Regions from separate parts of the Homo sapiens genome. Here region 1 is linked to region 2. Evidence: fine-mapped expression QTL. A gene starts in region 2. The other region holds a variant in brackets. All regions are shown on one strand. Distances are between the middles of the regions.

The links.
Region 1: its variant is fine-mapped to the expression of CPNE5 in whole blood (TOPMed, PIP above 0.99).

Annotation. Positions count from the first base shown.
Region 1 is chr6:36,744,656-36,747,555 of GRCh38, reverse strand. CPNE5 (copine 5) reads left to right here. Exons shown (of 21, transcript NM_020939.2): 16 at 979-1,160; 17 at 2,041-2,168; 18 at 2,406-2,508. Among named protein-coding and RNA genes, the nearest start is that of RAB44, 48 kb to the right of the region's middle. RefSeq lists a silencer at 2,423-2,623. The variant T/C (reference allele first, on the strand shown) is at 1,669.
Region 2 is chr6:36,837,723-36,840,622 of GRCh38, reverse strand. It overlaps CPNE5 (copine 5), which reads left to right and starts at 1,179. Exons shown (of 21, transcript NM_020939.2): 1 at 1,179-1,340. The coding sequence starts at 1,246. RefSeq lists a silencer at 506-715.

The sequences.
Region 1 (2,900 bases), 93 kb after region 2:
ATAGAGCACTGGGCTATCAGAGCTGGAAGGGGCCTTAGTAATAATAACACTGAGGATAGTTATCATAATATCGATAGCATCTGTGTAATATTCACATCAATCCTATGAAGTAGGAACTATTATTGCTCTGATTTTACAGGTGAAGAGACTAAGGCTAAGGTTAAGGAACTTACCCAAGATCACATAACTAGCAGGAGGTAGACAGGATTGGTACCTTGGCAATCTGTGCTGTACTACCTCCCATCAATGAACAAATAAGTTAAATACAGACTATATTGGCAGCGAAGAGGGCTCTGGGGGGGGAAATCAAGCCAGGAAGAAGGATAGGAAGGATTGGGGGAGGCTGTAATTTTTAATAGGCTGCTTGGAAAAGATCACACTGAGGAGGTGACACTTGAGCAGAGACCTGAAGAGGCCAGGGAGCGGGCCAGGGAGTGGACATCTGGGGAAGAGTGTCCCAGGTAGAGGGAACAGCCATCACCAAGGTCCTGAGGTGGGAATGGCGAGGGGCTGGTGAGGCTGGGACTGGCGAGTGACAGGGAGGAGGGTAGGAGATGACCTGGAGGCCAGATCATGAGTGCTTGCGGGCTCTTGTGAGGACTTTGGGTTTCATTTTGGGGGAGGTGGAGGCATTGAGCGTTTTGGGCAGAGGAGAGGCATGATCTCTCTGAGGCGGATAGGCTCAGTCACTGCTGTGCTGGATATGGGCTGGAGGCACAGGGGCAGAAGGAAGTGGGAGATCAGTTAGGAGACTGCTGCATCCTATAAGCAAGAGGGTGGTGGTATGGGGAGGAGGAGAGGCGGAGGAGGGATTCTAGATCTGTTTTGCTGAAGGATTTAACATGGGGTATGAGAGAAAGAGAGGAGTCAAGAATTAATAAAAGTTAGGGGTGCCCTTGGACACCCCCTTCTTCATTCTGAACCCGGGGTGACTTGGAGGGTCCAGATGGTCAAAGGCTCCCATGTCCTGTGTTACAGGGAACCCCTCACAGTCCACATCCCTGCACTACATGAGCCCCTACCAGCTGAACGCCTACGCGCTGGCGCTGACTGCCGTCGGAGAGATCATCCAGCACTACGACAGTGACAAGATGTTCCCTGCCCTGGGCTTCGGGGCCAAGCTGCCCCCGGATGGCAGAGTGTCCCACGAGTTCCCACTGGTAGGTGGTCCCGCTGGTGGGAGAGAGGACTGATCAGGCTGGGGGTGAGGTGACAAGCTGGGGGTGGGGGGACGTTTCCCTTCCTCTGAGCCCGGGGACTTAAGGCTCAGCCTCAGTGGAGGTAGACTGCCTGCTGTGTGTAGGGGGGCTCCAGAAATCCACTCCCTTCCCTGATCACAGATGCTGCCCCTCCATGTCTGAAGCTGCCTGCCCACAGCTGGCCCTGGCTTCCTTGTTCCTGACAAGACGCAGGTGCAGGTGGAGGCGAGCTGTGGCTGACCCATCCCTCAGGGCCCCAGAAAAGTGAACAAGGTGGTGTGGGTTGGGTATCCCTGAGTCAGTGCTGAGATGGGATGACGTGGATCTCCAGGGTGATGTGGAGCATGGCGTCATCTGGGCATCCCGGGCCCTGTGGAGATGATTGCACAGGCCACCCCTTTCCCTGGCTCCCACGAGCTGGGGACACTCAGGCACAGCAGACGTCCCTCCCATGCCTGAGGGTGCAAGG[T/C]GCTGTGCTGGGCCCAGTGTGCACGTGGACAGATCAGCCACAGGTCCTTCCTGAGTTGCTGAGACCCAGCAGTCATTTTAGGGCAGAGTGGATTTACCCAAGGTTCCCTGAGGGAAGCAGCCAGGGATCTTGGGGCATCTCTGAACAGGTACAGGGAGCCGGGTAAGGAGCAGGTTTGGACCCAGCTCACCTGAAGCATGCACTGCTTCAGGATGGGCCCTGGGAGCTCCCTCCCCTGCCCCGCCACCCCACACCAGAGAAGACCTGGGGGAGCCCAGGCCTGCTGGCCTCCCCACCTGGACTCAGTTCCCACACATCGTGCACCCCTGTCCTTCCTTCCTGGGCTCAGCCTCCCTGCCCTCTGTCCCCCAGAATGGCAACCAGGAGAACCCCTCATGCTGTGGCATCGACGGCATCCTGGAGGCCTACCACCGCAGCCTGCGCACTGTGCAGCTGTACGGCCCCACCAACTTTGCCCCCGTGGTCACCCACGTGGCCAGGTGAGTGCCGCTGCCACCGCCTCCAGGCACTCACAAGGCCTCTGTTTCCACACCAGCTCTGCCTCTGGGTGGTGGGAGGGGGTTTCTCTTCCCACGCACTTGCCTTTCAGGGAGCCCTGACCCTGAAGAGATTCCCCCAAGAGCTGTCACCCTCCAAAGTGTTCAGGGTCCTTGTTTAGGGGGGAACATGCCCAGAGGTCCCGCAGACAGACCTGAGCCCACACCTGCCCCACCCAGGAATGCAGCGGCCGTGCAGGATGGCTCCCAGTACTCGGTGCTGCTCATCATTACTGATGGGGTCATCTCGGACATGGCGCAGACCAAGGAGGCCATTGTCAACGTAAGCAAGGAGTGTGCGGTGGGGGAGGCGGTTTGAGGAGTGTCTTCCTCCCCGTTAGGGGAACCCTGGGGATGTGCCTACCTCCTTGACCTTAGGGAAATGCTTGGAGATGACTTGGGCGTGGCTTCTCATTTCCCTGCCTCACTGGGCCCCACTGCCCTCATCCACCTTCTGGCCTCTGGCTGCAGAGTCCGGTGCTGGATAGTGGATTCTAGCGGGTGGAAGGGGTGCCCAGATCATGAGAGATCTGGCTGGTGAGCTCTGTTCCCACCTCTTAGTCACGCTCTGGTCTACTCCCTCCAGACCCCAATGACTCCCTCATTAACCCATCTCTAGGACCGCTTCCCCCTTTCCCAGGCCAGCCTGGCCAGGTCAAAGGAGTGGGAGGGGAG
Region 2 (2,900 bases):
GGGCGCTGGCGCGTGGTTTCGGCAGCCGACTTGGCGAGGCCGCGGCTGGCGGGAACCACGGATGGGGGAGGCGCCCATGCACCGACCCCACCTGGGCCACTGGGAAACCGAGGTAGTCCCTCCTGGCACTGGGGTCGCCCCCACACACCTCCCCAGAAGGAGATGTAGGGTCTGTTTCTGAACTGAGACCCGCCCCCGAGTAGGGCGCACACTCAGCAGAGACCCTCCACACCCAAGCCCCTGGGAGGGGATCTTTTTTGCACACCTCCCTCCCACTTATGCCCCCTCTCAACCCTGCATAGACCTTTCTCAAAAAGGCGCCCGTTGGTTCCCATAACCCTCCCCCTCCCCCAGGATGGAGACCCCTGATGGGAGATAGGGGTGGTGAGAGGGGGCGGGCGCAAATGAAGATGCGCGCGACCAGGACCACCTCTTGCTGTCACCCGCCACGTCCCCAGCATCTGGACCGCGTCCCCCGGCCCGCCACGCGCGCACACACACACACACGCGCACACACACACGCTCACACTCACCCTGCGCGCAGACCCCGCCCGCGGCCCCGCCCCGGCCCCTGCGGGCGCCCCCTCTGGCGTTCCCGGGCGGCGGGAGGCTGCGGCTTCGGGCAGATTTGATTTTCCCGCAGCCCGGGCGCCCCGGAGCCGAAGCCCGAGCCGAGGAGGTGGCGCTCGCAGCCGCGTCTCAGCCCCGTCGCCGCCGGCGCCAAGACCCAGGGAGAGGCGGCGCAGCCCGGGCGCTCGGGCTCCGCGCTGCCGGCGCCCCGCCACCCCCGCCGCCAGCGCCCCATCCGGCGCCTCCCGCTCCTCACGCCCCTCTCCCTGTCTTCTGCATCCCCTCTACCTCTGCCCACAGACGCGCGTCCCTCTCCTGGTGCCCCTCTCCACGACTCCGCGTTTCCCTCCCGGTGCCCTCTCCCCGAGCCCCTCTCCCCGCGCCCCTCTCTGCCTTCCCCGCTGTGCCCCCGCTCCCTGGGCTCCTTGCCCTTCCCCACTGGGCCCCTAGCCTCCTCGCGGCGTCACCCGAGCCCCCTCCTCGATCCGCGGCCCCCGCTCCCTCCGCCCTCTTCCCTCTCTCACTTCCCACGCCCCCTCTTCGCGCTCCTCTCTCCTCCCCTTGCCGCCCAGCCCAGGCTCTGGAGTTGGGGGAGAGCCCAGGGCTCCAGTCGCTCCGGAGGAGGCGTGAATCGCGCAGGGATTGACTAATTTGGGGTGGGGGGTGCGGTGGGCGATGGAGCAGCCTGAGGACATGGCGTCGCTGAGCGAGTTCGACTCCTTGGCGGGCAGCATCCCGGCCACCAAGGTGGAGATCACCGTGTCCTGCAGGTGAGCCTCCCGCTGGCCGGGTCCCCTTGCCCCGGCCCTGGACGCAGAGCCCCGCGGCCCCTGCCGCTTCGATCCTAAACCTCCGCGCGCCCCCTTCCCAGAGTGTCCTGGTCTCCAGGACTGCGCCCCTGCCGATCTGCCAAGAGCCCCTGTCCTGTCCAGCTGCGGGTGGCGACGGCAGAATAGGAAGCCAGGCTGGGGTCATATCCCAGAAAGTTTGCGCTCCAGGCTGTTGCATCGAGGAGATATGAAGACACAGGAACAGGGGGTCCAGGCACCCAAGTGGGGAGAGGGAGTTGGTAAAAGGCTGTACTACGGTCTCTGCTCAGGCTATCTCTGATCACCCCATCCCCAAATCACGAAGTGAGTGATTTGCCCCCATCCCTCCCAGGCTCGTCCACCCTCTCCCTTCTGTGCCCTCCTCTCTTCTCTCTTTGCCCCTTCTTTGCCCCAGCATCCTGATCCTCCCCTCACCAGTCTCCCCCACCCCACTGTCCTAGACTCTAGGATTTTAAAGCCTTCCTTCATCTCTATCAACAACGAAATCGACTCCTGGAAAAGGATCAGATTGACTCATTCATACTAAGGTGTGGATACATGATAACAACTTAAAGTGGCACCATTAAAAAAATAACTTGGGTCAAAAATCTTAAGCCAAAGGAATAGAACACTGATTGTGAAACTGTAGAGTCCAACAGAGGAGGAGGGGGAATATTTTTGTGGGCTACCACGCCCAAATCTTCACTCATGTCACACAGGGTTTGGGGGTAACTTCTCTGTCTAAGAGCTGGGTCGACCCCAGGTTCTCCTAGCTAGGGGAAGGCTGCCCCTGGCAGTAAGAGGGTATGGGTGGCAAAGGGGGATTTTTCCCTAGTTCAGTCTCTCTGTGGCTGGCCTAGGATCATGTGCTGCCACGCAAGCATCACCCACTTTGAGGTTCCCCCACAGAGGCCATGCCCCCTGCCCCAGATCACCGACAGCATTTCTGGAGCCCTGGCTGTGCCCTTGTTCGAAATCACCCATCTCATCCTCTTCCAGGTTGCTCCTTGGTCAGACCCTCCATGAGAGGTAACCTTGTTGCCCCCCAGTCCTGTATTACAAAGTTGTGGCATTGATGAGGTGTAGGTAGAGCTGGAGAGTCTGGGCAGGGGCGTGAAGGAGGGAAGGACTCAGTGTGACTTTCTCTTGAAGACTTGGGGATAAGTGGCAGTGAAGGCTAGTCTGGTTGAACGTAGCTTCCCCCCTAAGCCAGGCCCTCTGGGGGCTCCTGTGATAGCTCCCAGGTCCCATACACCATGCCGTCAGGATCATCTCCCAACGCCATTTGCATCTTGTCATTACTCTGCTGGGAGATTCCTGATGGCCCATTAGCTCCAGTCTCACCTCCTCAGCCATCAAAAGCAGCACGGCCTCCCCACCCTTCTCCTGCACGCACATCCCTGCGCCTGGCACTCCCTCCCAGCCTTCAATCATGCCTGTCATCTTCAGTTGTCTTGGGATCCTTCCCACCTCCAAGCCTCTGAACAGCCCATTCCCCATCCAGATTTCACTCTTCCTTTA